2 separate regions of the Homo sapiens genome follow, and region 2 is linked to region 1. Evidence: fine-mapped expression QTL. A gene starts in region 1. The other region holds a variant in brackets. All regions are shown on one strand. Distances are between the middles of the regions.

Region 1 (8,345 bases):
AAGGAAGCCGGTCATGAGGACAAATACTGTATGATATTACTTATATGAGGTACCCAGAGTAGCCAAAACTCAGAGACAGAAAGTAGAATGATGGTTTAGGCCAGCCAAGTTGCCTAATTTAATTGGATAAATACCAATTTGGAATGGGCTGATCCATTTATCTATAGTCTATTTAGAAACCAAATTATATAAATTCAAGTGTTATATATACTATTTCCACTTAAAATATAAAAGAAAATTATTACGGACCTTACTGTGTTTGTGTCATGTATGCTTTCTAGCTCTATCTTACATGAGCAATAACTATGAAACTTATCTTGTTGAAAGTACTTCATTCTGTTATAAGATCAACTAAATTTCTAGAGTTGATAACCTCAAAAGTACCTTCCAATTCCCTCTTAATGCTATTGGGAAGAGTTTCCAATAGATAGTATAGTTTGTTGAGTTCCATGCTTTCAATCTCCAAAAGATCGATTGTGGCTTTTCTCATTTCTTCCTGAAAATTTAAATTACATTTTTAAAAAGTTAAGACACTAAAATAGTAAGATTGATTTCCTAAACAATGCCCTACAAATGTTTTCAGGGGTCAAAATATAATTTCACTAAATATCTTCTGCCATTATTTTTATTTGGAACAGAAACTGGGAAAAGTATCTACAATCACTATTTAAGGTGTCTGTTAGTTTATCTCTTAATTTCTATTGATTTTATTCTACTGAGAAATTATCTTTTCTTTATGAGTATCTGTTTCTTATATGCAGTTTCAATCCATTTAAAAGGAAAGACTAACAAAAATAGTAATATTGAGAAAGAAAGCTACTTATTAAAATATGGAAATTGCCTATAAAAATATGCTTAGGTATAAAAAAAATGGTTTTCTCATACACACCTACAAACCCAAACAAGTAGGTAAAGCTGTTATTATTACTTTTAGCTGAGGCTACTTTAAGAAAGGAAACACTGCTAAGAAATCAGTTGGTGGGAAAAAATAGATAAATCATCTTTTAAATAAACTGTCATAATAGCTATAGCTATTTTATGACCTGAGAAACTGCCATTATATTTTATGAATTATAAAAAGCAGACTATATAATTACATATATAGCATCATCACTTTTCTGTAAAAAATGAAATTCAATGCAGTTATCACCTATACCCTGAAAATAGAAAGTATATTCATCAGCATTAATAGTGATTATTTTAATGTGGTCCTTTTGCTTATCTATTTTTTCTTAATTTTTCAAAGTCAACATGTATTACTTTTAAAAATAAAAGGATTGATCTGGTTTTTTGTTTTTTTGTTTTTTTTTTTTTTGAGATGGAATCTCACTCTGTTGACCAGTCTGGAGTGCAGTGGGTCAATCTCAGCTCACTGTAACCTCTGCCTCCTGGTTTCAAGCAATTCTCCTACAAGCCTCCCAAGTAGCTAGGATTACAGGCTCCCGCCACCTTGCCAGGCTAATTTTTGTATTTTTAGTAGAGATGGAGTTTCACCATGTCTCGGCCAGGCTAGTCTCAGACTCCTGACCTCAAGTGATCCACCCATCCTGGCCTCCCGGAGTGCTGGGATTACAGGCGTGAGCCACCATACCCAGCCTGATCTCTGTTGTTTAAGAGATTTCACGGCTCAGATATTAAATGAATACAGACTAGATACTTTAACCACAATAAATATTTTGGCCTCTTAAAATCCTAGCGAAAGACATAACTGAAAGAAAGAACCAAGCAGGGAAAAATGTTTTCACAGCACCACAGAGCTGCACAACACACATGATCCCTCAGTGTTTACGTGTACCTACTCAAGTAGGATTGTAAAGTATGATTATGTAGTATAGATATATATATGTGTATAATTATATAAAATATAAAGTAGTAAGAGTTTTATCAGCAGTCTGTGGATTCAAACTCATTTACAGCCATATTTCAACATTTTTAGCAATTTGATATGTAGTAAATTCTTATCCAATATTTTTAAATAAAATGGAGAGCCTTCACTACTCTGACTGTGCCAAGGAAGCATTGTCAATGTGATCCTTGGCCGAACAGAGATGTCTGTGACACCTCAGAAGGAAATTCTTTAAATATTTCTTCAACATGTCTTTGATAGGGGCCAGTTAAGTGTAATTGAAAGAGTTTCTCTTTGTTTTCACTAACAGTACCGTCTACTTCAGTGGAACATATGTCAAATAATCTTTGACCAGTTATGCAAGGAATTGCTTACAGAGAACTGAGTTAATTAGCACCATGCTTGCAATTTATTCCAGAGATTGTGTGTTTGTTTGTTTTAAGCAATGCTTATATATTGGTGTCCCAAGCATTTGCCCATGTGGTCCACCTCTTAACTGAACCGTATTATCACCCACATTGCTTTCTCTAAATGAGCTTGCCCTCATCCACAGCCATAAGCCCATAATTTAGTTTTCTTCATGGAAAATCAAGTAACAATCCACAGTTGATCAATAATTGTGCAAATCCTTACAAAATTGAGAGAAAAATATTTTTAAGTTCAGGGTAACTATATTCCCTAGTCATCTACTTAATACTTTGAACAGAATTGGTGCGAAATGAAAGTTTGAAGAAATATGTGGAAGATTGAAGAAATGGTTCTTATAGATAATACAATACCAATTTCTTAACAGCTACAGCAATGTCCTTAAGAAAGATCTTAGCTTCTTCATTACATTTAAAATAGTCACTTTGCAGTGATTGTTCTGAAAAAAAAATTAGAAAATAAAGATCTCTTATTTATCTATCCAAATCCTACTTAACCTTTTATGATCTAGCTCAAATGCTTACTCGGCTGGAAGTTACATCTTCAGTCTCTGAATTTTTATTGTACATTACACTAATCTCTTTTGTACTTATTTCCTATTCCATAATGTTATAATTTAGGTATATATTTTATGCTCCTTGAGGACAAATGTGCTGGAGATTTACATATTAATATTTTATAACTCAGGGCAAGAGGGTGTAATGATTTTTTTTTCCTATGAAATATGTTCTGAGTGTCTAGACATTAACAGAAAAATGTATTTGTACATAAGTACTAGGGTTGCATTGGCATGCCGATCTAGAGATCAAGTATGAAAAGAGTTCAAGGTTCTAGGTCTGTCATTGACAGTGACCTCAGATACATGTGAATAATTTAGGTCTTAATAACTTTAGGTCTCCTCAGTGGGTAACATTCCTTTTTTTTTTTTTTTTTTTTTTGAGACGGAGTCTCGCTCTGTCGCGCAGGCTGGAGTGCAGTGGCACCATCTCGGCTCACCACAACCTCTGCCTTCTGAGTTCAACGGATTCTCCTGCCTCAGCCTCCCGAGTAGCTGGGATTACAGACGTGCGTCACCACGCCCGGCTAATTTTTGTATTTTTAGTAGAGACGGGGTTTCACCATGTTGGCCAGGCTGGTCTCAAACTCCTGACCTCAGGTATCCACCCGCCTCGGCCTCCCAAAGTGCTGGGATTACAGACATGAGCCACCGCGCCCGGCCAACATTCTTCATGATAACATTTACCCAAGCATATTTGCTAAGAATTGTGAAATTAACCTAGCGCATTTAAGAAGGAAAATAAAAACTATCCCAAATTAATAGTAACATTGTAACATAAATCAATACGATTATCTTGAAGAAATGGGATGATTCTAGTGAAGCACTGAAATGTTTTGTTGTTTGGCCTAAACGGTTTTTGCACCGAACAAGAAACACCCTTTCTTGGATTGTCTTACCTTAAGCTTAAGTGACTTGATTACAGGTTCAGCTTTCTAACTGAAAAATACTTTAACCTGGCCCTATCCAAGGTCATTTTCTATTAGAATCTCCTAAACAACCCTTTACATCTAATTTTTCTTGCTCAACACAACAGAAGCCTCTTAAACACTCCCTTTCCTATTTGCTTGTTAAATTCTCCAGTTTGCCACGGCAAAATGTCGGAGGAAGTTAACTTGTAAAGGAACGGCAAGAAGAGAACTGAAATCGAAGGCATAATCTAAATGCAGGTGTGTAATCAGGTCGCAGGCATAGGGCAGTGGCTTGGGAGTCCCGGATTTGTCACCTCAGTAATTTAACTACTACTGAGGGTTGAGCGAAGTCACCTCAGCTGCGCTAGGGCAGGAGATCTGGGCACTTGGTCCCACCCGCCACCTCTCTCTCCCCAGCCTCCAAGGAGCGGGGAGAAGGCTCTGCCCTGCCCAGTGATGCCCTGGTTCCGGGAGGAGAGTCCCCGCTCAGGGTTCCCGCTGAGTGCCTCCTAAGCGCCACCTCTGAGGAGACGTCCCTTCCAGCGCCCGAGGGGCGTCTTACCCACAACAAACAGCTGCTCCAGCGCCTCGACCGCGACCGAGGAGCCCAGGGTGGAGGGTAAGGTGCATAACTCCAGGGAGGGGCCAGTGGAGACGGCAGCCGCCTGCACCAGCTTCTCGCCAGCGCCCAGCCCTGGGGTCCAGGGGCTCAGGGCCATTTTGCCGCTCTACTTGAGCGCCTCCTAAGCCAGAGCCAAGGATTGCCGGTTGCCACGGGCAACGAGGACACCGAGGTCGTGGGGCGCCCCCTCGTGGCCCGCACCTCTAGTAGGTACCCTCCTGGTTCTCTAATTTTATCCACGATAATTAAGCAGTCTGGGAAGAATGACTCTCTCTTTAGCTAATTTTTCCCCTTTCAATTTCCATTGCGTTAGTTCAGGCCTGTATCTTTTTTGTGGGCCACTGGAATCATAATAATGATCACTTTTGAGCGCATCTTTGTGCCGGATACTGCAGGAGAACCTTTATATACAGTAGCTCACTTAATCTTCACAAGGACTTTGTGAGCAGGCTCTTTTAGTACCTCCACTTTTACAGACACGTAAACTGAGGCGCGGGCGACTAAATGAACGGCTCAAGACCACAAGAGGATAATATTGGATTTAAAGTGACGTCTGGGCCGGGCGAGGTGGCTCACGCCTGTAGTCCCAGCACTTTGGGAGGCCAAGGCGGGAGGATCACCTGTGGTCATGAATTCAAAACCAGCCTAATCAACATGGTGAAACCCCATCTCTACTAAAAATACAAAAATTAGCCGGGCGTGGTGGCGCGTGCCTGTAGTCCCAGCTACTCAGGAGGCTGAGGCAGGACAATCGCTTGAACCCGGGAGGAAAAGGTTATAGTGAACCGAGATCTCGCCATTGCACTCCAGCCTGGGCGACAAGAGCTAAACTCCATCTCAAAATAATAAAATAAAATAATAAAGTGAAGTCTGTATGACTCTTTCTACTATGCTACAAAACCTTCTTTTGTACTAATTTAGAACTTTCCTTGTATCTAGTACATCACTGAGCACATTTTGCCTTGAATCATAGTGATTTTTCTCTGTCTTCCCATCGAACTGTGAGCTCTGTGATGACGGGGACAGGAGGATATTATTCATTTTTCTCTGCATCTCCAAAATTCAGCTTAGCATGAGGCTTAGGTTGAGTCTGTCAGTTCCTTTTCCTCTGGTGGGTTAGAGAGAAGCAAAGGTGATTCAACCCTCCTCTTCTTTTCTCTACAGATGGCAAAATTGAAATTAGAATGATAGTAACAATGACAATAGCTATCAATTGTTAAATGCTTATTTTGTTCCAGGCACTGTTTTAAATACTTTGCAGTACCCCATTTAACCCTCACAAATAATCTTTTGAGCTAGGTATTATTGCCTGCTTTGCAAGTGAGGGCACTGAGCTACATCCTAAACCACTGTGCAACACTGCCTTGGAGGGGACACAGCATACCAGTAGCAGAACTAGTTCTAGAATCCAGGCCTCCTTCATCCAGGGAGTGCCATATTTTGGTGTTGGAAACCATCCTGGACAACATCCTCCTTTTTTGCTGGATTTGGTCTATTGGTATTCAAATCTGTTCCTGCCCTTCTGGGCCCTCCTCTGTGTGGCAGGAGTAAGAAGACTGGATATGAAATTTCCTGGATGTCCTTGCCACCTGTTTTCTTGGTAAGTTCCACTAATGGGAAACACTTGAGGGAGATTAGAAGGCCGAGAAATCATGCATTTCTGCCTCCAGAAGTGGTAGTTTCAGGCTACAGTTGACTGTAGGTCCCAGCAGTTTTGGTGGCTCTAGAAGTGGCAGGAGTAGGAGCCAAGTGACTCCAGCAGTCTCCAGCTGCTCAGCACTATATGTGAGCTTGTGCGTACAGTACAGGTGTTATGGCAGCTCTGATGTCTGGGGTCTTCTTTATCTTCTTACCCTTTGGCTTCTATACCCCTTGTAACAAATTCCTTGTGATATACTTCTCTCTTCTGGAAATATCTAGACTGGACTACTTCAAGGCAACCCTTAAGCTGTCACCAGAAGACTCTTCTTACATATCGCATCATTTGGATCACATTGCTCTCCATTATCTATGAATAAAGGCTAATCTTAAGGGGGCATTTTGTGTCCTCCCCACTTACTGGATTTGTTACAGATTTTCTTACATTTCTCTATTTCCCTTCATGTCTCTAATACTTTCTTTTTCCCTGAACTTTGTGAGAAAGTTACATGTACATACACATACATATGTATAAAGTGGGAAAAGCAAGTTGAAAAAGAAACGTACAGTATTCAATTAATATTTAATTTTTATAAATTAAATATTTTGTGAGAGATGATCAGCTTCTAACTTGTCTCATGGTTCCTTTTATATGGGATGCCCTGTACAAAATTCAACCACAATTTTTCAAAGGAAACTTTATAAATTCTGAAATAGAAATCTAGGCAAACAACATGAATCATCACTTAATAAAAGAAAAAAAATTCCGAGAAACATACGGAAAGAACATTTACCCTCATTAGCATTCAAAGAAAAATAATACTCTCATTTTCTCATAATATTAAGATTAAAAAGAATAATACTTCAAAGTATTGACACTGGGAATATGCATACTATCTGAAGGACAATTTGGAAATTTGTGTAAGGAGCCTTGACATACAGTAATTCTTCTAAGAATTGTTCTTAAAGAAATAATCACAGGTTTGTCCATGGGCATAGGTATGAACTTGTTTATTGCAGTCCTGTTTTAAATACTGAAAAATAGCCCAAATGATCTACAGTAGGACACTGTTGTTAAGTAATTTATGGGACATCCATGCAGTGGAACAATCTAGAAGGCAATCCGCCATGTGGTTAAGAGCTTGGGTTCTGGTGGATTTAAATGCGTTCCACTACTGATTGGATGGAGTATCTCCTGAGACAGCCTCCCAGCTCATGCTGCCAGTGTCTCAGCTCTAAAGGGGTGGTGACGGTGATAGGAGTTCTCAGTTCATAGGATTGTTCAAAGGATTAAATTAAGTGAGCACATGGTAGATACTTAAAAAACACTAATGATAAAGTAATAATAGGGTACCTATTAAGAATAATGGGTAGAAATTTACATGTACATACACATACATATGTATAAAGTGGGAAAAGCAAGTTGAAAAAGAAATGTACAGTATTCAATTAATATTTAATTTTTACAAGTCCATATATCTATAGAGATGTATATAGGTATATCTCTATAAACATATGCATAGAAAATGGTCTGAGAAGAATTGTTCACTAAAATGTTACCTGTAGTTATTCCTGGTTAGTGAAATTATAGATGTAATAGGTAAAATAATGCCTCCTCAAAATGTCCACATCCTAATCCCTGAGACTTGTGAATATATTAGGTTACCTGGTAAGGGGTAATTAAGGTTGTAGAGGAAACTAAGATTGTTAATCAGTAAACTCCGAGATGAGGAAAGTAGCCTAGATTGTCCAGGTGGGCCCAATGTAATCACAAGAGTTGTTTTTTTTGTTGTTGTTTTTTGTTTTTTTTTTGAGACGGAGTCTCACTCTTGTCACCCAGGCTGGAGTGCAGTGGCGCCATCTTGGCTCCCTGCAACCTCCGCCTCCTGGGTTCAAGTGATTCTCCTGCCTCAGCCTCCTGAGTAGCTAGGATTACAGGCACCCGCCACCACGCCCAGCTAATTTTTGTATTTTTAGTAGAGATGGGGTTTCCCTGTGTTTCCCAGGCTGGTCTTGAACTCCTGACCTTAGGTGATCCGTCTGCCTTGGCCTCCCAAAGTGCTGGGATTACAGGCATGAACCACTGCGCCTGGCCACAAGAGTTCTTATAACTGAAAGGTGGAGGCAGGAGAGTCAATATCAAAGTCAGAGAAAGATTTGAAGATGCTAAGCCGCTAGTTTTGAAGATGGAGGAAGGGGACCATGAACCAAGGAATGCAGGTGGTCTCTGGAAACTAGAAAAGGCAAGGAAACAGATTCTCCCTTAGACCCTCCAGAGAGAATTCAGCCTTGCTGACATCTTGATTTTCACTAAGAAAGACTCATTTTGAACTTCTGACCTCCAAA
Region 2 (8,345 bases), 100 kb after region 1:
TCCATTAAATAAATAAACCTTATGCATCAAAGTTAATAGGAAAAAAATTAATGCTGGAATGTATACTTATGACTAACTGTCTTCAACTTGAAGTGGAAAGCAATTTTAGCTAGTTTTTGCACAGAAGCTGTAAAAATTAATGAGTCAGTGTCTTATGTGTATAGCTGATCCTCAGAAAGCTCTAAGTATATAGCAAGTGCTACTGTTCTTTTCTGTGATATAAATAAATAACCTTGAAAATATCATCATCATCATTTGTAACTGCAGTGGTGGCAATTAGAGAACAGGTTCAATTAAGTATCAGTAGTTATATGGCCTTAAAGGTAAGTCAAAATTTGAAGCAAAGAAGCATTAACGAAATTATGTGAGAAACCCAAGCTTAGATGATACCTACCTAATCGATGATTGGAAAAGACTTTTGAGGGCAAAGGGCACATGCAAAAACATAGTATGTATTGATCAAAGAGGAGGCAGGACAACATGAAAGGTGGAAGTAAAAAGAAGCAAAGAGTAGCTCTGCTAACCTAACTATCTTCTTTAAAATAATTCAGTATACTCACTAAAAATAAAAATTTCTGGATCCATCCCCAATCAATCAAATCAGAATTGCTGGGGATGAAGCCCTAGCATATGCACTTTAACGGGTTTCTAAGGTCATTCTTAAACACTGAAAAAATAGTAAACCACTACTTCTTAAATCCAGGAAACATCAGAAATAACCGCAGCATTGAAAAGTGATGAGGCTTAGATATATGCTTGTTCTCTAAGAGGTATGATGGTAGCCCAAAGAGGTTTTCTGGGAAGGCATTATAAGTTCAGATGATGGGAACAGATTGATCATTGTCAGTGTACCCTACTTAGGAAAGGAGAGCTCACCCCAAATCTCCATGTGCGCCCTGCTCCATTCCTATCGGGTGTACCAGCCCACACTTTCTGAGTGAGGGGAGCTGGCTCCCACCTCAGGGTTGTCTGCAAGTCTTGCTCTTCCTCCTTCTGATGCTTTCTGACCCTCTTCTTCCAGGACCCCAGCCTTTGAATCCTTCTATACCCATAGGTACCAATATTTGACTTATGTTGATGCAATACATTCACAGTGGTCACATCTCTGAATTTAAAAAGCAACGTGAGTTTTATTTTTCTCAGATTTTCAGCCTTGAACAGGCAGAGGCTCTCTCCATTTGATATTCATTGTAGGATATTCAAGACATCTTTTTCCAGGGATGCTGGTACCCCACTGCTGTGGTCAATGAGGAAATCATGGTTATAATCTGGTAATAAAAATAGTAAGTAGGGACACAAGAAAGTAGGGACACGAGAAAGATTCACTTTTTTAAGGAGCCATGAGGAGAGATTTATGATTTGAAATGTATCTCAAGGAGTCAAATACTGCAGTAAGTGGACAGAGCATGATGGCAAAGGAAACAGAACAAACAAAAAGATTAATATTAATATTGGAGACTTTTCATCACTAAACAAACACAAATTCTGGTCCTGAGGCGGGAGATGCAAAGAACAGGCGTAATTATTTTTTCAAAGATGATATGGACCTGCCTTCTACAGGTAAATGGAAAACCATTGTACGTTGGCTTTCTCTTGAGTAGATTCAAAGCACTTGGCACTTACCCATCCTTCTAGCTTCCAAAGGTGACAATAACTCAGGAATCATGACCTCATTTAAAATAAAGTGAGAAAGTGACTAACTACCCCAGTCATGAAAGGCAGTAATGTGGATTTTAGCTTTGCAAGGAAATTTCCTAGCAAACCACATGGCCCATTTCTGTCTCTTAATGTTAGAACAGTCCCCTAAAATAGTCTTTCTTACAAAAATAACATTCTTTTCTCACTCCCAGGATCTTGGCATCTAAATGCTATTCTAGGCATTTTAGAAAAATAAATAGTCAAAGCTATTTACAACAATGACTACCACGCTGTGGCCTGAGATGGTGAGTTTCACTTGAATTGCCAAGAAGGGAACAAGGGCGTCATATAAACCCTGGAAAACAAGCCCAGGGACAAGTCCTGTTCTGGGGTCTGGAGGATTTGGAAGGCTGCCAAAGCTTAGGCAGTGGTGGTAGGGGTGCGTGGGGAATGTGAAAAGGGGTCTTTTCTCCAAAGTTTTATTTAAGGGTTGAATGCTAATGCGAAAATGGCCTAGCTCAATCATTTTAGCTTCTCTGGCTTGGCCTTCCTAACAGCAAGAAAGAAGCCATCAATGAGCTACAAAACTTCATTTTTCCTACAGGCTGGAAGTGGTCTCTTTTTAATATATGTTCTGGATTCCACTGTCTGAGAGAAGAAAATTGATTTAAACATTTAGGTATCTACAGACAACTCTTACTGACTCAGGGGCCAGCGCACTCAGATTGCAGATTGCAGCATCCCTGTTTCTCTACCTTGTGCCTCATCCTTTGTGAATTCTGAAAGCTGGTTGCTTTTTCCCACATACTGAGGTCCAGCGTGGGCCACAGCACATGTTGGGACCTCAAGAGCTGAAGGTTCCTTGCTGGGCTCCCAGGCACAGAGGTACAGGCCTCCCTTCTCACTACTGCCCCTTCCTCAACCTCCACTGTCCCCATTGTCCTTAGGCTCACTGGTGTGGAAGAGACTTTAACAGACTGACATGCTGATCTTCAGGTTTCTCAAAGCGTGACCACAGACCACCTGCTTCAGAAGCACTGGGGGAGTTGGTTAAAAATGCAGCTTCCTGGGCCTCACCCCAGGCTTACTTAGTCAGAATGGGAAGCTGAGAATGTACATTTTTAACAGGCTATCCAGGTAATTCTTATGCACATATAAGTTTAAGGACCATAGATACAGGTGCAGGGTCTTAGTATCTAACTCTGTTGGGTTCTTGAGTTCAACTGTGATTTCAAAAAGCAAGGGATAGCATCTGAATCCTCTTGGCTCCTGGCAGAGTGACAGATTGGATTGTGAGGGATGACAGTGTCTGGAAAAGACTGGGAACAGGTAGGAATCTACTAGAAAAAGGCCAAGATAATCCCTAACTTGACATTTTGTATTGAGTATTATCATGTGTAATTGTTAGGGTGGCTTGGGTATGAATTAGAGAAGTATTCTCAATTTCCCTCTTAAGCATCAGAAGTTGCACAGGTGCTCTGAAATGAAACAATAGTACAGCCCTCTCTGCTAAATTGAGTTATCTATTAAACAAACAGAGCCACCAATGATAACCCATACACCCTTTGACTTAGGTTTCATCTTTACCATTGTATCAATGTTTGTAAAATAAGGCTAGAGACTGGAGCTCTAACTTTTCTCAATCCAGACTCTACCTCTCTCCAGCTAAGACCATGAGGTCTTTATTTCTTCTCTATGCCTTAATTTCCCCAACTGTGGGATGAATCTGCTTATAGTACTAGTCATAGGTACCTTTTAATGGTTATTAAAAAGGGTTGAACAGTAAAACAGCAGAGTACAAAACAGGTGTTATATTAGTAATCACTCTTAATAATTTCATTGTTAATCATTGTCACTGCAAAAATTAACAGTGACCTGACCTATGAGAAGAAGCTGAACTGTTTAGCTCAAATGAAGTCTGGGGATGACTTCTGGATTTAAGTTATTCACACTCAACCTATCACTTATTGCCACAGACACTTCAAAGTTCACAGTTCTCTGAAATATCATAATTTTCCAGAGCTTCCATACAGACTTGCATATAATTTTCCAGAGCTTCCATACAGAACAATTTGAACCTTGCAAATTGTTCTCATTTTATCTTAGGTCTAACAGGTTGGGGGTTGGGGTTTGTTTTTCTTTTTTAAAAAAATAGAACTTCTTAAAAACCAGGTCAGACTTATCAACAGAATCTAAATAAGGCTTGGTGTGTTGTGCAACCTCTACAACATAGCAACAATGAAATTTCACTGCAACTACTGCCCTCATACCCAATAGCATTTACAATACCTCTGACAAAGTGTGTCTATTTCCATGGTACCTGTTGCCATGGGAGCTGAGCAGTGCTCCTCCTAGAACAATCATGTTAGTAACATAGCTCTTAGCTATTGCCTTCTAAG[A/G]GCTTTGCTCTGGGGAAAAAATGGGATACTTTGTTTTTGAAAGAAGTCATAAACCTCCTCCAAAATAGACAATTGTTGCTTAATAGTACTAAAAAGGAAAGAGCAATCCCTCTTTCCCTCCATACCAGTTAGAGAAGCATTTCTTTCCTTCTGGAGAAGTATTTCCAAGTGAAACCATGCAAAATATAGGGAAGTGTGTTTTGAATTCCATTTTAAAGTTATTTTGCATAAAAGTTAAATAAAAAAGGAGATAGTTGTCATTGTTTACAATAAGTCTATCTTTACTAATTTGAGCTAATCAGTGAATTCACTGAATAAAATACAAGGTTAGTGCCAATTACCAATTTCCCAATGAACCCAAATACAAGGCTTTATAGCATGCTGTATTATTTAGTGTGTCCAGGCATTGCCACATAAAGCTGATGGAAGTATACATTTGTATCATCTTTCTAAAACACAATTTGGCAATAGGAGCCTTAAAATGTTCATATGTTTTAGTATGGTAATTCTATTTCCAGAAATCTATCTCAAGAAAATAATTTGAAATGAACACAAAGCCTTATAAACAAAGATACTCAATGGAGTGGTATTTAAAGTTTTTTAAAGCTAAAATCTAAATGTTGAACAATAGAGAATGTGTAACTAAGTAACTGAAAAGTGATAGGCATCTTTATGCTGTCATGAAAAACCATATTTATGAAGAGTTTTTAATAACTTGGGAAAATGTTTATCATATCAAGTTAAAAAAAGAAGTATATGAATTTATACAGCCAACATAACAAGTATACAAAAATATGTACAGACATAATAATAGAATATATGTTGAAATTTTGACAGTGGTGGTTGAATTATGGATTACAGTTATTTTGTCTTTTATAAGTTTCTATATTAATAGTATGTGTGTGTCTATCTCTATTTCCCATTTTCTCTTTTTTCTCTGCTTCTCTTTTCATCTAAGTGCTCATAAAACTACAAATCTATTTTATTATTTCCATATTTATTAAATACATCTTAGATTTCCACATGTACAAATCCAACAAAAACTTACCAAGCATTATTTGCTATGAACAATTCTTAATTTAGACATATGAACATATATTTCCTCTAACAAAAACAAGTCAGTTACTTTGCTTTTAATTTACTTGGTTCTTGATTCATATGTTTTATTCCATGAGTAACTGTCTCTCAATAGAAAATCATTCTGAATCTTAAAAAATGGTAATTTGAAAATGCCAAAATGTTCTCCATACTATTTTTTCAACCCTTTTTTCTAGCTCCAATAATGATTATCAATGATGAGTGTCATATCAATTCCATCCCCAAACCACACACTGCAGTAGGCACTGGGAAATAATGAATCTGGGTCACTAATACTCTGTATTCTCCACTGGGCTCTCTCACTCATGCTCATAGTTACCACCAGACATGGGTACCACCAGCTCTGAATCTCCAGCCTGGACCTAGCTCTTGAGTTCCAGGTTCAGGTCACTAACTGCTTACTAAATAAATCTTCCTGAATGTCTCCTAGGCATCTATGAACTCATTTTCCCTGTATCACCTTCTCAGATCGTGTTCCACTAAGCAGCCTTCTTTTTCATCCAGCTAATCACATCAGAACACAAGGATCATCCCAGATTCCTGTTTCTGTCTCACTGTTCCCTTCCCCTACCCTCAAACCTTGATTTCTACTTTCCAAATCTCTCCCAAATTCATCCTCTCAGCTGCTACAGCTTTAGTTTATAGTTTAGACCCTCGTCACTGCTCACTAGATTTTTTTAGTGATCTTCTAACTATCCTTTTGGTTACCAATCTGTCCTTCTCATGGAGAAATCTTTCTAAACATAAATCTGATCATGGTGCTACCCTTTAAGAAGCTAGAAGATCCAGCATGTGCTTTTTAATGTGGCTCCTTCCCATCTCCCCATCTTCATCTCCCATGGCTTTGCCACTGACATACTTTCCAGAAAAATGGAATTATCCTAATTCCCTGAAATCACATGCTATTTCACCCTTTGAGGACTTTACACACATTCTTTTCTTCAACTGAAATTCTCTCACCTGCTCCATATTTCAAGACTTAGCTCAAGGTTCAACTCCATTTGTCTTCCTTTCCTTATGGCATTACTATTTCTGGTACATCTTCTCATGATTATTTTATTTATTTGAACAAGATTTATTACACATCCAATGTTATACCATGCATTGTGCTGGCTGCTGGGTAGATAGACTACTTCTGCCCCCACAGAAGGATTCCACTTGCCTTTCCTGCTGTTGAAGTTTATACCTATGTCTCCTTTGAATTGCTAGAGGGCAGGAACTGACTCATGGTCATCTTTGTATCTCCCAGCTTCTGGCGAAAGTAGATGCCTAATAAATGTGTATTGAACAAATGGAAACAAACACAAGTGTTTCTGTTTACATTAACACAACAATAAAACTTAACAAGTATAAAAGTTACTCATAATTGCCAATGAGTAATGTTTCACACTTCATAAAACAGAAACAATTGTCTCTAGGGAACAAAATCAAATGTATACTTACAGAGCACATGGTTAAGCATTGCTAAAAAAGGCTTTGAGAATATGATTTGATAATTTATGAGTTTCCTCATAATTCTATGATTAAAGTGACTAATCATAGGGAATATAGTTAGTCCCACTGAACTCCACTCCAGAAACTGTGGTTCCTAATACGCATGCACTAATTTGCCTAATAGAAATCTTACTTATGAGGTTATTCAGCATTTAAGAGTGCAGGCAAAAGAAAGGAGAAGCAATTTGATTTGTACCTAGGGGAGTGACATTTTGGTTCTCGGTTAATATTTAAAAGTCAACTGACACAAGATATTTGGTGACATTCACTATGGTTGATGTATGAATCTGCCAATCCCATTTCTCCTTACTAACGCATTATTTTGGTCCTATACTGAAGCTTATTCCAGACTCAACCTCATGTTCTCTTTCTATTGGAAATCACTAGTTGGCATCAACTCTTTGCTTTTATATAGCTGAAAAATACGTTAATTAATCCATTTAAAGTTGTATGAAGGTAGTATTAATTTTGTGTATTAACACAATGACTTATTTTCTGATCTAAATATTTCCAAATCATCCTGGGATAGGGGAAGTGAAATATGCATTTCTAATATAACTGACATGGAAAATACATTTTGCAGATTTGAAATGACGTGGATTCAATACACATCTTTATCTGTCAATTCAGTAGGCATTTAATACTAGGGTTTCTTTTGGTTTTCATTTAACTTTCTTTTAGAAAATTGAAAAAAAAAAAGCTTAGTTAGAATTTGTCTCTGGCCAGTCTCAAAACACTTTGTAATATACTTGCCTAAGATCCATTCACTGTAGAATTAAATGTCACAAATGATGGCTTTTTACCACAACTTCTGAAAACTTTCTTTGTTTTTCAAACCAGGTGAGCCAAGTTACAAATCTGTTTATTCATTTCTATTTCCTGAAAGGTTAGATCATAGAGTATTTAGTATTCTATCTCCATAGTAGGTCCCTTGAAGGGCTTCTTTCTCTTGCTTTAGAATTACTCTCTTATTTCCTTAGTATCTTTGGTTTCAGGTAGTTGACCTTATTAGTCAGATAAGAGTTTTGGGCTTTTGTCTGCCATGAAAGAAAACTGGTGATCCATCTAATTTGCTTTTCTTTGTTTTTTAGCTCTTGCCAACGCCAGCTCTCTTCACTATGAAGAGTACTCTGGTGTTTTGAGAGTCTTTGTCTGATTCTTATTACCAAGGATTGCCCTTTGAGTTAGTGCCTTAAAAGTAGTAATTTTAGTGATTGACTTTCACAGGCTCAGAAGGCTTCTGCATTTAAAGTTTTCTAATGACCAAGCAAAGTACATACAGTGCACTTTCTGTTTGCAATGTTATAATCACAAAAAGAGAAAGACTTTAATTTTAATTAGAATAAGGCTTTTTAAAAGTTAAATTCTCCCTCCCTTCACCTCACTCTTCTAACTTTTTTTATTTTTTTACTTCTGGTGGTTACTATGATTTAATTAAATGATCTGTTTTGTAAGTATTTCTAGATTTAGTAATTTGAGGTAGTTCCTGTTATATAAAATTTAAAAACTTCAGTGCATTTTCACTATCATTTATATCCTTTCCAGTTACTGATTTTTCACATTACTTTTACTGCCAAGATTTATACAATTTACATATTTTTCAAAAGTTATAATTAGGACTTCTCTACTTTATCCACAGGATGGTTCTAAAATTTATGGCAATAAACAGAATTATTGTATTATCATGACTTAGATATTATTTTCTATAAAAATAAG

Direction of the effects. Positions count from the first base shown, and alleles are read on the strand shown. Sizes are in standard deviations (SD) of each study's normalised expression.
For the expression in tibial artery of the gene that starts at base 4,495 in region 1, A is the low allele of the variant in region 2 and G is the other (moderate effect, 0.49 SD a copy in GTEx).

The links. PIP is the estimated chance that this variant, and not a neighbour inherited with it, causes the effect.
Region 2: its variant is fine-mapped to the expression of CCDC175 in tibial artery (GTEx, PIP 0.96).

What each region holds. Positions count from the first base shown.
Region 1 is chr14:59,572,318-59,580,662 of GRCh38, forward strand. CCDC175 (coiled-coil domain containing 175) reads right to left here and starts at 4,495. Exons shown (of 20, transcript NM_001164399.2): 1 at 4,302-4,495; 2 at 2,626-2,711; 3 at 385-496. The coding sequence starts at 4,458.
Region 2 is chr14:59,676,137-59,684,481 of GRCh38, forward strand. All of the region lies in intron 3 of RTN1 (reticulon 1), which reads right to left. Among named protein-coding and RNA genes, the nearest start is that of MIR5586, 33 kb to the left of the region's middle. The variant A/G (reference allele first, on the strand shown) is at 4,038.